Linked DNA regions of Homo sapiens. The protein of the gene in region 1 interacts with the protein of each later gene in a biochemical or structural test. Each region holds a gene or a part of one and is shown in the gene's direction. Other genes may lie near its edges.

Region 1 (7,029 bases):
CCTCCCACCTTGGCCTCCCAAAGTGTTGGGATTACAGGCACGAGCCACGGTGCCTGGTTCTATTTCATATTCCTTTTATTAGAAAAGCTAACATTTCACCTACATGTCTTAATATGATTAAGACTTTGTAGTTTGTAGTGAGTGAAAATCAAGCATTCTTAACCGCCAGTATTAAAGTTTTGAATTGATGGGCTCGTATCTACTTTGTTAAAATTAAAGAAGTGTTATCTTATTACTGACATAGTATCTTGAACTTTACAATCAGTTTTCTTTTTATTTCTTGAAATGACATCTAATGTATACATTAACTATCATGAATATTAACTCAGCTGTGATATAAAAAAAATCATTGTTAAGATTCATGCATGTACCTTTTTATAGTTCTTTACACTTTGATTAGACCAATAGAATAAGGAGCCATATTTTGGCATATTTTGGGTATATTTCCATAGATAATTTGTATTCTCAAGAATATTTTGTGTTATACCTTGTTTTAGTGATCGTGGTGGAGAAGACCCAAACCAGAAAGTAATCCATGGGGTTATTAACTCCTTTGTTCATGTTGAACAGTATAAGAAAAAATTCCCCTTAAAGGTAAACAGCCTCCTTTAAAAACAAATAATCAGACTGTTAATTTCTTAAACTGCTTGTTCTAATTTCTTCTAATATGATGTAATTGATTTATTCAGTTTTATCAGGAAATTTTTGAGTCTCCCTTTCTGACTGAAACAGGAGAGTATTACAAACAAGAAGCTTCAAATTTATTACAAGAATCAAACTGCTCACAGTATATGGAAAAGGTAAGAAATAAAACATATCGAATACATTTATCTATTTTGTATCTGGCCTGGTTTTATTTAACATCGTTCTTAGTTTTCTTGTTTTGTTTCTTGGTGGAAAAATATTCTGTTTATTTAATCTATTTAATCATTAACTCTGAGTTACAGTTATTATATAATATCGATTGATAAGTCATTGCTCTTTACAATACCCTTCCAGTTTTCATCATAATTGATGCTTTTTGATAAATCCTGACTGCTTGGTTTACTTGTCCTTGAAATTAATATATATGCACATTCTTGGCAGAATAATCAGTTTATACTGGATTTCATGCTTAGTGGTTAGTTTAGAGAATAGGATAAGTGCAGAAGCTCTGTGTTGAGGTTTTTTTCTTCCTTTAAAATGAGAGGAAAAATATGAGGAAAATATAGTAATTCTAGACATTTGGATGAGTCACTCTTTTGGTCTGTTAAGTTCTTGAAAGGCTGAGAGACAACCCCACGTGAGGTGTTTTTTTTTTTTTTTTTTTTTTTTGGAGATGTGGTCTTGCTCTGGTGCCCAGACTAGAGTGCAGTGGCTTGATCATGGCTCCCAGGCTCAAGTGGTCCTCCTGTCTCAGCCTACGAAGTAGCTGGGACTACAGGCACACACCACCACGCCCAGCAACTTTTAAAATTTGTTATAGAGATGGGGTCTTGCTGTGTTGCCCAGGCTGGTCTCAGAACTCCTCAACTTGAGCAGTCCTCCTGCCTCAGCCTCCCAAAGCGCTGGGATTTTAGATGTGAGCCATTGCACCCAGCCAAGAAATTTTAATTGATCACTAAACCAGTACATATTGGTTATCATATGTTAAATCCCATGTTTATTTTCTCAGTAGTAGAAGAAAAAAGTGTTCATACAAATTAAACCACCATATGTAAGATATATTAGAACTTCTAGCCAGGTTTTTAAATCTGCAGTGTTGGATTTCAAGCATTTTATTTTGGGATGGTTTGTGTTAGTTTATGTAGCCAAGAAAGGTCGAGTAGTTTAAGTGGGTGAGCTGTCATCCTACATCCCTAGGCCACAAGTCACAAAGCATCCGTGCTTACCGATACACTGTTGTGTCATCCACAAAGCCCAGATCTAGAGGTCTTAGTTGTTTGATTATCTTCCTGCTTTTCTTACTAGTTAGCTCTGTCCCCTGAGCAAATTATCTGGAACTTTTCCCCCATCAATTAAGTTCAGGTTACACTAGATCAGTGGTTCTAAGCTCTTAGCCCTTATTGCACCTTAGACTTTTGTTGAAGCCTCTAGATCCAGCCCCAAGAATCACACACAGATTATCTGTGATACATGCACTTTGCTCTGTCTGGCTGTCAAAAATATGCCACTGGCAAGTGGTGGCAGTAGCCCAGATGTCTGTTAGAAGTTGAAAGAATAAGCAAAATGTGATACATATGTGCATTGGAATATTATTCATCGTGTGTAGTGAAAAACTCTCTCAAACCATGTTTTTCCTCTACTCTCACACCACAGCAACAATCATCAGCACAGAAGGCTTCTGTAAACAAAGGTGTGGCTCTCTTCTCCCACACACCAAGCAGCAGACACCAGCTAGGTGTCCTCCAGTTCAACTCTAACACCATCTACTTGAGATAGTGGCTAATCCCACAGTTTGGGGACTGAGTCTCCAAGACTGCCCTGCACACCCCCAGACACCAGTCACAAGTCTGGGCCTCCGGACTACTGACCGACTGGCTTTCAAGTTGAAGTCCTACAGTACACTGTTTGGGTTCCATTAATTTGCTAGAGCAGCTCACAGAACTTAGGGAAACACTCACTTAATGTTTACTAGTTCATTAAGAAGGATATTTTAGAGGATACAAATAAACAACCACTTGAGGAGACACATAAGGGAAGGTCTGAAATCACCATGAGTGCAGGAGCTTCTATCCCTGTGGAACCCAGTCTTCTTGGATTTTTGTGGAAGCTTCATGATGTCAGTAGTCTTTCCCCCAGCGTACAGGGTGGGGCTTTCTCTGGGGAGGGTCTTATGACCCACAGTCAGAAAGGTAGGGCAAGATTAGAGTCCTGCCTTGAGGCAGGTGAAAGGAGAGTAGGAGAGAAATTCTGTTTCCTGAGACCTAACACACTCAACATTATAACTAAAGACTGTAACTAGGGCTAAGGGAGTTATGAACCAGGAACCACAGATGAAAACCAATGTACTTACATATCACAACACCACACAGTCTTTAAAAAGAATTGAAGTTATACATGATACAACATGGATGAACCATGAAAATGTTATGCTAAGTGGAAAAAGACAGACACAAAAGGGCAAATATTCTGTGGTTCAATTTATAGGAAATATCTAGAACAGACAAATTCAAAAGGACAGAAGATAGATTAGAGGTTATCAGGGGAGGAGGATGTGAGGAGTTGTTACTTAATGGTTATAAAGTTTCTGATGGGGTAATGAAAAATATTTGGAAGTAGACAATGGGGGTGATTACACAACATAGTGAGCGTTATTTAATGCCACTGAATTGCCCACATAAAAATGGCTAATGTAAATTTTATTATCTATGTTTTTACCACAATTTAAAAACATTGATAATGTAATATACCAAAACCATTGAATTGCACACTTTAAATGGGTGAATTATTTAATATGTAAATTACATCTCAAGGTGTTAAAAGGGAAGGAGGGACATTGGAATAAATTATGTTTGGAAAAGAATGTTTATTAGAAAAGCTTATTTCAGGCTGGGCACGGTGGCTCAGACCTGTAATTGCAGCACTTTGGGAGGCTGAGGCGGGCAGATTACGCAAGTCCAGGAGTTCAGGACAAGCCTGGGCAACGTGGCAAAACCCCATCTCTACAAAAAATTAAAAAACTAGCCACACATGGTGGTGTAGTCGTCTGGTCATAGCTCTTGGGACGCTGAGGTGGGAAGATCACTTGAGCCTGAGAGGCGGAAGTTGCAGTGAGCCGAGATTGCACCACTGCCCTCCTGCCTGGGCCAGAGAGCGAGATCCTGTCTGACAAAAGAAAGAAAAAGAAAAGCTCATTTCAGGAAATAATGTTGGACCATATTAGCTTCAAGGGCAAAACCCTGGGCTTTGCTCTCCATTTAGTTAATTGGGGAATGAGTCAGTACAGCCTTCCTGCCTCCTTGCTGCGTTCCTCTTATAGCTTTGGCCTTTCTTTCCCCCAGGGGTTTTACAGCTGTTTGAAGCCCTGCACTGGGGCAGTCCAACCTTCTCTACATTTCTCTTGATATGCGCCTCTCTCTCCCAAGTTATCATTGTTTTATTTTTTCCTTCTTCCATCCTCCTTCACCTCTCTCAGACCCACTGTAATTCCTGTTGCATTAACTTGGCAAGCAGATTAAAGTCACTATAGTATGCTCTGAATGACTAATAGACTTAATCCTTTTTGTTATAAAAATAGCCCTTAAAGGATTTATTGTTAATCAAAGTGCCTTTCTTAGCTGATGTAATATGTGGTGAACACTTTTGTCCTCTAGACCAGGGGTCCCTGACCCTCAGGCTGAGGACCAGTACTGACCTGTGGCCTGTTAGGAACTGGGGAGGACCAGTACTGACCTGTGGCCTGTTAGGAGGAACCGGGCTGCACAGCAGGGAGTGAGCAGCCACTGTGTGAGCATTACCTACTGCCTGAGCTCCGCCTCCTGTCACATCAGCAGCAGCATTAGATTCTCATAGATTCTCACAGAGCGCAAACTCCATTGTGAACTCTGCATGCAAGGGGTCTAGGATGTGCGCTCTTTAGAAGAATCTAATGCCTGAGGATCTGAGGTGGAATACTTCACCTGGAAGCCACCTGCCCCCACCAATGCCGCCCGCACTCCGTCTGTGGAAAAATTGTCTTCCACAAAAGCAGAGCCTGGTGCCTAAAAGGTTAGGGACTGCTGCTCTAGACCCCTTCTTGCCCGACCTGAGTCTGTGACTTTGCCCTGAACTCCTGGCTTCAAAGGGTCGCACAATAGGAAAGACAGGACTGTGGGAACCTACTGTCTGGAGCCTCATTTTTATTGAAAATTTCTGATCCGCTTTCCAGGAATGATTTTCACTCCTTGTGCCCAGGCCAACTCAGCAGCACTCTCCAAAGTGCCAGGTGTATGTAGTTCCCCGGGAACACTTAATTTCAGAAACTCTAATTACACAGCTTTATGTTCCAGAGTGTTTCCAAGCCGGTGCATTTGTCTGTGTATATGTTGTTGTTTTGTCTTGAGACAGAAATTAGTCAAATTCTTTGGTTATTTTCCTTATGGGCTAGTTCTTGTTGATATTAACCAGTGTTATTTGTAGCTCAGCGCTTTATGTAGGATAAACTTTAATAAAAGTCTTGATTGACATACTTGACTATGACTAAATTATATTTACTTTCAAATTTTTTATTTTTTATTTATATTTATTTTTTGAGACAGAGCCTCGCTCTTATTGCCTAGGCTAGAGTGCAGTGGCGTGATGTCGGCTCACTGCAACCTCCTCCTCCTGGGTTCAAGCAGTTCTTCTGCCTCAGCCTCCCGAGTAGCTGGTGCTACAGGCACCTGCCACCACACCTGGCTAATTTTTTGTATTTTTGTAGAGACGGGGTTTCACCATGTTGGCCAGGCTGGTCTCAAACTCCTGACCTCATGTGATCCACCCACCTCGGCCTCCCAAAGTGCTGGGATTGCAGGCATGAGCCACCTTGCCTGGCCTTATTTTTATTTTTTTGAGACAGTGTCTCACTCTGTCACACAGGCTGGAGTGCAGTGGTGCGATCTTGGCTCGTTACAACCCCCACCTCCCGGGATGAAGTGATTCTCTTGCCCTGGCCTCCCAAGGAGCTGGGATTACAGGCATGCCCGGCTAATTTTTATATTTTTAGTAGAGACAGGGTTTCGCCATATTGGCCATGCTGGTCTCAAACTCCTGACCTCAGATGATCCACCTGCCTTGGCCTCCCAAAGTACTGGGATTACAGGTGTGAGCCACCATGTCCAGCCCCTACTTTCAAAAATTTTAATTAAATCTTTAATATGGTAGTTAACTATCATGCACATACAGTTCCATTTACAAGAAGAGAAACCAACGTAAAATAATTAGATTCATCTACTTGATTTCAATATAATTTATTTTTTAGTTTGATAGTTATTCATAACAGAGATCACCTGTTCTGAATTTAATCATCTGTACCCACTTTTCCTGTTACATGTTATGTTGTCCATGTAATAGGATGAATGGTGTAGGTAAATGAAGACAAAATGCAGACTATTTAACTTTAGTTCTTGCTTATAAGACTGGTGGAATGTAGATGACAGCTAGTAGCTTAAATAAAAATTTGAAATGATTTATAGAATGTGGGTTTAAATTGCTTATGTAACCCTTATTACCTTTGCCATGTTTAATTCAGCCATTAAAATTTGGCTGAGTTACTTGCTGATATTACAGATTTTTCCTCATAGTAAAACTTTGTGTTCATGACTGTAAGAAAATATTTTTATAGGTTCTAGGTAGATTAAAAGATGAAGAAATTCGATGTCGAAAATACCTACATCCAAGTTCATATACTAAGGTGATTCATGAATGTCAACAACGAATGGTAGCAGACCACTTACAGTTTTTACATGCAGAATGTCATAATATAATTCGACAAGAGAAAAAAAATGGTAAGTGACACCAAACATGAGTAGAAATTAAATTATAAATCCACCTTTTATATCATCCTCTAGTCACCCTTGATTTAATGCCTATTTTAGTAATAGTCTTTAAAATATTTTAAATAACCTTTTACAGATTATTAATACTTTATTTTGAAAGACTATTTTAGGAAAGTGTTTTCAGAGTGTTCTAAAATCAGAAGAAAAAGTGGGAAATTGTGTTTATACATTTTTATATATTACAAGAGCTAATTTCCTTAATGCATTTAGAATTCCTGATAAACAGTAGGAATAAAGGCAAAGACTATAAAAAGGAAATACAAATATTATGTAATAAATGTAATAATTTATATAATATAAAAAATCAGCTATATCTGATTTTTTTTTTTTTTTTTTTTTTTTTGAGACAGAGTCTCACTCTGTCGCCCAGGCTGGAGTGCAGCGGCGTGCTCTTGGCTCGCTGCAACCTCCGCCTCCCAGATTCAAGTGATTCTCCTGCCTCAGACTCCTGAGTAGCTGGGATTACAGGCGCTCATCACCACACCTGGCTAATTTTTTTGTACTTTTAGTAGAGACAGGGTTTCACCATGTT
Region 2 (7,029 bases), on another chromosome or scaffold:
CCTCCATTCCCCAAAGCCCTAGGCTCCTACACACTTTCTGCTCTGGTTTTTAGGTTCCTTTTTGATTTTTGGCGCTTGGGGAGGTCCTTTATTTTCTTGTGAACGTAGCTGTGCATTTAAACAGATGTTTCTTACACGTTATCCAGAATTTTTGACTGTTTTATATTAAGAAGGATTTTTAGGTAATCTTGTCTGTAACATTGCCAGAAAAGAAGGCCTGCCTCATTTTCTCTTAGTGGACTTCACTCTCTTCTTCCTCTGTTGTTAACTCTGTGTACCCCTACTGGCACTTAATCATGTTTTTTCAAACTTTATCATTGTCTCCTTTTCTGTTTTTATGTTAAGTTGCTCCCAGCAGCTCTTCTTGGCTTATTACCTTCTTCCTGGCTACGTTTACATTATTATCTCAATCATCATCTGCTAATTATAACTAATAATTAATAGCTAATAATCCTGCTAACTTAGCAGTATAAAAATCAACCTGTGAGAAACTGACCTCATGATGATCTCTTGTATCAGTTAGGATGCCTTTGCCAATACAATGCTCAAATTAATGGCTTAAATAATAGGGCTTATTATTGTTCGGTAGCAAGAAACCTAGAAGTAGTTGGTTCTAAAGCTGGTGCAGTGGCTTAATGATGTCATTAAGGATCTAGGTTCTGCATCTTTTTCTTCTTCTATTAGTGTTTTAGCTTTTATTCCTCAGGCTCATTTGCCTCATGTTTGCAGTATGGTTGCCGTAGCACCAGACATCATGCCTGGATTGGAAAGCAGGGAAGGAAGGTGCATATTTCCTTATAACTCCCTGTTAACAGAGAAGTCTTTTGCAGAAACTCACTTTGGAGAGTTCCATTTCAGTGTCATTGGATTGAACTGATCTCATGCCACTGCTAGCTGTGAGGAAGCCTGACACAGTGAATGTCTGGCATTTACCAGCATCTCTTGTAAGATATGGCCTTTCGTAGGGTGGAAGAAGGGTGAGAAGAATGCGCTGGGTTGGCAACTTGCAGGTTATATCCCTGAACCAGCTACTTTGGCCAGCTGTCTCTGGCTTGGTCTCAACCTTTACGTTGATTTATTTTCTGCCTTATTCTAAAAGAATTAGGGGTGACTTGCTAAATATAGATAAAACCCTGTCAAGAGAAGAAAAATTTATATATAGACTTGTAAGGTACACAGAAACACTTGCCATATGTTAGAAATATTTGGCACTGAGCTTTTTAATAGTCAAAGAAGAGAACAAAACTAATAAATTTTATTCATTTGGTAAATGAAGCTGCAGTAATTTTAATAACCCACACTGAAATCCTGGACATTTCTTATCCTCTTCTTCCCTGGTCAGTGGCAAGGAGAGATTGCATCTCTTCCCATGCCCAGCCTCTCTTTCCCATACCTATTGCCATGGCCTTATGTCTGAGACAGCCTTTCTTACAGTGTTATAATAACCAGCAATACATTTTTCTTTCTTTTTTGTTTTTTTTTTTTTAGAGGTTGGGTCTTGTTATGTTGCCTAGGCTGGACTCGAACTCTGGGCTTCAGGGGTCCTTCCACCTCAGTCTCTGAGTAGCTGAAGTTATAGATGCACGCCACTGCACCCGGCTCCAGCTGCCCTCAGTGCTGCTGTTTTAGAATTTTTCTTTACTGTGCTCCCTCTCTAGCAGACTCTCCTTTCATGGAATCTCTGAAGCAGTGCTTCCTTCTGTTACTCAGTTTTATGTTACATAACAATAGCTGCTTGTTTACTTTTATTTCCCCTCCCCAATTAGATTATTACCTTTTTGAGATCTGGGACCATGTCTTACCCAGTATCCACTTTAGCATCTAGCATGATGCCTTGCATAGCTACCCAAATATGTATTGAATTGAACTTAAATGATCAACTATTGAATAACTTGTGCATTATCTAGAAAAATTAATTCTTCCTGTTCCTGTTGTCTTTCATTATCTTTAGATTTTTCTTCAAGGAACACAAGCTTTCACCTACTCATTCTTTGCATTTTTTAGACAAAGTCAGTTGTATGCAAACTAATTTAATATTTTTCAAACATGCAGATATCAGTTTTAGAGAATGTGGCGTGGAGAAATTCTCAAGGAAAGAGTAAAATGCTGGTGATGTGCTGAGGGAACAGAAGGAGTGTTTGTGAATGTGCACACGTCCGTTTCTGGTCTCTCGTGTCAGCGTCCTACCTGCACAAGGTTAAGGCAGCATTAACAGGTCTGATGTTAAGGGGCCTAGAGTGTTTGTCCTTTTCCCTTCTTTTTGTTTTATATCCATATTCTGGTCCTAAGGATTTATTTCTTAAGTTAACAATATAGTGAGATCACTGAAAGTCTTTCTTCAGATTTACAGAGTAAAATTTTCTTTGATGAATCTGACATAAATGCTGGTAAATTTTTATAGTTGGTCAACTCGAATTGGTATTAATTCTTCTCATAGCTTGCTTTTTTTCTTTTGAAATTTACATTAGGAGAAGTACCTCTTGAGAAGTATTCTAAGCAGAACATGTATTTTAAAATGTGTTTTAAGAAGGAAAACATTGAAATGCATTCTAAATAGAATTAGGTATTTTAACAATCATTGTGTGACAGTTTTAGATGTAGCAAAGTATCTGCTACTTCAGGTTTGAATTGCTTTTAATCAGAAAATGCTGTTAATGAGTTATGTTCAATCTAGGAAGATAGGCTTGTCATTTGTAACTAATGTACTGAAAAAAACACTAGATATGAAAAAGACCCCTGCCCTCTTCAAATAGCATTACCTGTGGTATGATTTATTTTAGTTCTGCCTTCGAGGATTTTTTTTTCCTTGTGAAATTTTTTGCTGGCCTGTATCAGTAGATTTGCAGAGACGGGGAGTAATCCATTTGTGCTTCTCCCCCTGCCCCACGACCACAATTGTTGGCTTTTAACATATGTCATCTTAGGCCTCCTCCATATTAGTTTATGATTAGTGTCTGTAATGGACACTGTCAGTCCATTGACTCTTGGTCTGATTGGAGAATTCTTACCCTGGCAGGCAGATCTTCTCAGACACACTCGCCTGAGACTGTGAACCTGAGGCTGGAGGCAAGGAAAGAAGAGTAGCCCATGTGGCCATTTTCTGGGGGGATGCACAGTGGTGGCTGCTGTGCTGCTTCTAGAGGCAAGGTCTAGTTGTTGCTGCAATGATGATGCAGTCTGCTGTGTCCCCTTAGGCATTGTTATGGCCAGGGGGAGATTCTGTGAACTGTCTAATAGCCGCCTCCCCTTTTTTTAAATCACTTTTCTGTTTAAATTACCTAGAATTAGTTTCTGATGCTCTCAACTAAGAATTCTGATACTTCAGCATCCAGACTTGTCACTGTCGCTGGTCAGATACGTGGTAGAAGCCCTTGTGAAGAGCAGTGATGTATCTTTTTCATCCTGGCTGCCTGTACATTCTGGTCAGAGGTGACCCAGAGGACTGGAGGAGGACACAGTCGATATCAGCTGTGGGTCGTGGGAGCTGTGTTTGCTGGTGGTCAGGCAGGACTCCCGAACCACACACTAGCCCAGCCCACTGGGTCTCATCATGTGCCACTCTTTACTGCTGCTTTTTCCTAATTCTTTGTCCCCCAAAAGTTGGGATGCCTAGGAGCTAATACATAACTCCTTGTGCATTTTTTTTTTGGCTCTGATGTGGGAATATTAGCTACAGAAATATGTGTGTGTGTGCGTGCGTGTGTGTGTGTGCGTGTTTTAGTGGAATGTTTATTTTGTTTAGCCAAAAATTACATCTGATGTACCAAATACCTTTTTAGTCAACATTATTTAGGTATAATTTCACGTATTATAAAATTATACTCATTTTAAGTGTTGTTGGGTGAATTTACTAAAGATATAGAACATTTCATTACCCCAAAAGTTCCCTTGTGTCCCCTTGTAGTCAGTGCTTCTCCTCCTGCCCCACTACCACAATTGTTGGCTTTTAACATATGTTACCTTAGGCCTCCTCCATATTAGCTGATGATTTGTCACTTTGCTGTTCCTGAGGATATTACAGTATAATAAAGGCATGATAAATCTCTCGTTTTTACTGAACTATGAAATCCAAAGAAAAACTATCAGTGCTGTATAAATTATCAGTCTGATAAATAATACTTTGCCGCACAGAAGTGTCTTGAGTTAGATGACTTGTTCTGGTGAGCGGCTTTCCAGTGGATGGCTTTTCTGGCTTCTCTGTGGCCTGTAGACATGCAGGGCTCGGGTTTTCTCCCTGGATGTGATGATGTCTTTTAATTGTTATCTGGGTCAGGTTGGGAGGCAAGAAAGCCAAAATGGCTGAATTCAAATCCTTGCTCTGTCATCTCCTAGCCAAGGGACTGGAGTAGAGTTACCCAGCTGCTCTGTGTGCGCTTCAGAGCCCTCATGCCTAAAAATTGCCTGTTGAAGGCTGTTCAGTCACCAAGTGTTTATTGGGTATCTACTATGTACCAGGCCCTGCTCTTCATATTTCATGAAGTTTTCCTTTTAGTGTAGGGGAGGGGGCAGATAGTAACAAGTAAATTGTGTAATACGTCAGATGGTGATAGGTTCTGTAGAGAAAAACAGCAGGGAAGGGGTGCATGCAGGCACCCCTGTGTGCGGGCGTGGGGTGGGGTGGAGGGTGTTGTAATTTTAAATAGTGGAGCCAGGAAAGGCTTCACTAAGGAGGTTTTAAGCTAAGCCCTGATGGAGCTGAGGGGCCATTCCAGGCAGAGAGAATACAAATGCAGAAGCTCAGAGTGGGGAGCAGGCCTATATTTGAGGAACAGCAGAGGCTGGGGTGCTTAGAGTTGTGGGGGAGGGCAGAGGGAAGAAAGTAGGAGGCAAAAATCATAAGTGGTCCAAAGGATTAAATGAGATGAAACACGTAAAGTGTTTTTGATGCTTACAATTACTGTGTGATGACAGTCTCCTAGGTAGCCTTTAAAAAATCACTCTTGAGAAGAAAAGTTATAAGAAAGAACAGAACCAAATGAGGCATTCCCTCACTCAGCCATTCAGCAAACATTCAAGGGGATTTTTGCTGCCAGGTGCTGCTGTCACAGGCAGGACTGTGTGGGGGAGACCGGGGCTTCAGGAGCTTCCTTCAGTGAGTTCATTGTGGAGACAGAAGGAATGGATGCATGGGACGATGATGCCTGCTAGGTTAGATGGATGCCCCGGGGGCTTTGAGAACATGTGGGGAATGGTTAGCAGTTGTCATGTGAGTTTTAGCTTTTGAAGTTGGATTATGTGAAGAACAGGATGTGTATGCATGTGCAGGTGGCATATGGGGTCAGGTGGGAGCTTTCCAAGCCCAGCGACAACATGGCATGGTGGGGACAGAGAACTGTGGCAGGAGAGTGGGTGTTTGGTAGGCTAGAGTGGAGGGGAAGGTGAGGTGCAGGGCTAGGCAGGAGCTGGTGGCAGGGGTGGGGTGGGGTCGGTGGGAAGAACTCAAAAGAGGCACCAGGGAGAGTGTATGAGTGGAAAGGAACTGAGAGAAGGAAAGAGAAGTCCCAGGTGGGGCACAGGGAGGGAGGAGGAGCAAAGGGGAATGGGGAGGGACTAACACGAATTCAGTGATGATCTTGGATTTGCTTCAACTGCTTTGCCTGCATTAACTCATTTAATCCTCACAGCAACCCTCAATAAGTTAGGGACTGTTATTATCTCTGTTTCACAGATGAGGACGCTGAGGTGTAGAAAGGTTAACTCCCCTTCTCAAGGTCACACAGCTTATAAGTGGTGAATTGAGATTCTAACTCAAGCATTCTGACTCCATGGTCTTGGTAACCCTCTACTGCCACTGAAATCATTCTTAACATTTTGTTTGTGCTTTTCATTGAACCCTGATTGGAACACTGCATGTATATTGGAATTCTTTTTTTTTCTTTTGTCACTGGCCTATGAATGATGCTGACAGAGCCAGCTGATGGATTATCTCTTGGTTCTTTTCTTCTTGGAATGAGTCCCAGCAGGATCAGGATCTGGGATTTCTGAGTCTCTTCTTTCCCATTCTTCTTCATCCCCTCTCATTTTTGCTGGTTTGCTTACAATGAGAGTAGACATTTAAAAACTGATTTTAAGTGGGAAACTGAAGAATTGTGGCAAAGTATTTTCATACTCTTAACTAATGAAATAGTCATTTTTAGTCTTCTTAGATTTTATTTAAATAGACTTTGTTATTTTTAAATATAGGAGATCTCAACGACATTGCAGCAAAACTAGAAAACAACTACTAACATCATTTTTACATAACATTTTTGAAATTATTTTTATTTTTTTTCCTGTAGGTTAGGGTAAGTTTAATGTCTTGTCCTACATATGCAATTCCCAAAATTAAGCCACAGATCACTTCTTAATTATTAATTAAACAGGAAACGGGATAGTTGTACATTTAAGTCCAATAGCTAGTGAATTAGTAGTTTTAAACACCATCACCTTGTGATCTCTTCTGCCCTGTCTTTTTGTAGTTCTAGGTTCAGTCTGTCTCAGTGTCTTCTACGTTCTAAATAATAATAGGGATGAAAACAATTAACGTTGATTGGCACATAATATGGACCAGCACTGTGCTAAGTGCTTGACATGCACCATCTCATTTAATAATCCCCACAGTAGCTTCGCAAAGAGGTTCTGTTATTTCGGCTTTATGGATGAGGACACGGGCACAGTGAAGTTTGGAAGCATGTACAGGGTCACTCAGTTGGGACTCAGTTGGAGCTCTGACTCCAACCCAGGGCTTTATGTTATCAGAGCTGATTGACATTCTTTAACCAAAATCTGGGCTCATTTAACATTAGTGAGATGGAAAGATTTTTACTGTGAACTACCCAGTGATTCTGTGTGCTTCAGTGGGTAGTACAGATCATTTGTGCTCACCTTCAGTGGGTAGGTGGGGTGAGGAGAATGAAGCTAGGGCCCTTTGTACCATGTCACATTGGGAGTGCAGCCAGACGGGTGTCCTGAAGTGACTGAGTCCCTTGGGATAGCACCAGCAGGCACAGGCAGTGTGGTGGGCGATGGATGGATGCTGCCTCCCTTGGG

The links. Proteins that work in one complex are often made in the same cells at the same time.
Region 2: of the proteins of CUL2 (region 1) and DCUN1D4, one has a biochemical effect on the other in vitro, tested with the Homo sapiens proteins (2 studies listed by BioGRID, with this or other methods).

Annotation. Positions count from the first base shown.
Region 1 is NC_000010.11:35,038,337-35,045,365, reverse strand, and holds part of CUL2 (cullin-2), read left to right. Parts: intron 1-497; coding exon 498-594; intron 595-689; coding exon 690-800; intron 801-6,283; coding exon 6,284-6,446; intron 6,447-7,029.
Region 2 is NC_000004.12:51,846,153-51,853,181, forward strand, and holds part of DCUN1D4 (DCN1-like protein 4), read left to right. Parts: intron 1-2,052; exon of another isoform or gene 2,053-2,215; intron 2,216-2,269; exon of another isoform or gene 2,270-7,029. UniProt on the Homo sapiens protein: Contributes to the neddylation of all cullins by transferring NEDD8 from N-terminally acetylated NEDD8-conjugating E2s enzyme to different cullin C-terminal domain-RBX complexes which are necessary for the activation of cullin-RING E3 ubiquitin ligases (CRLs).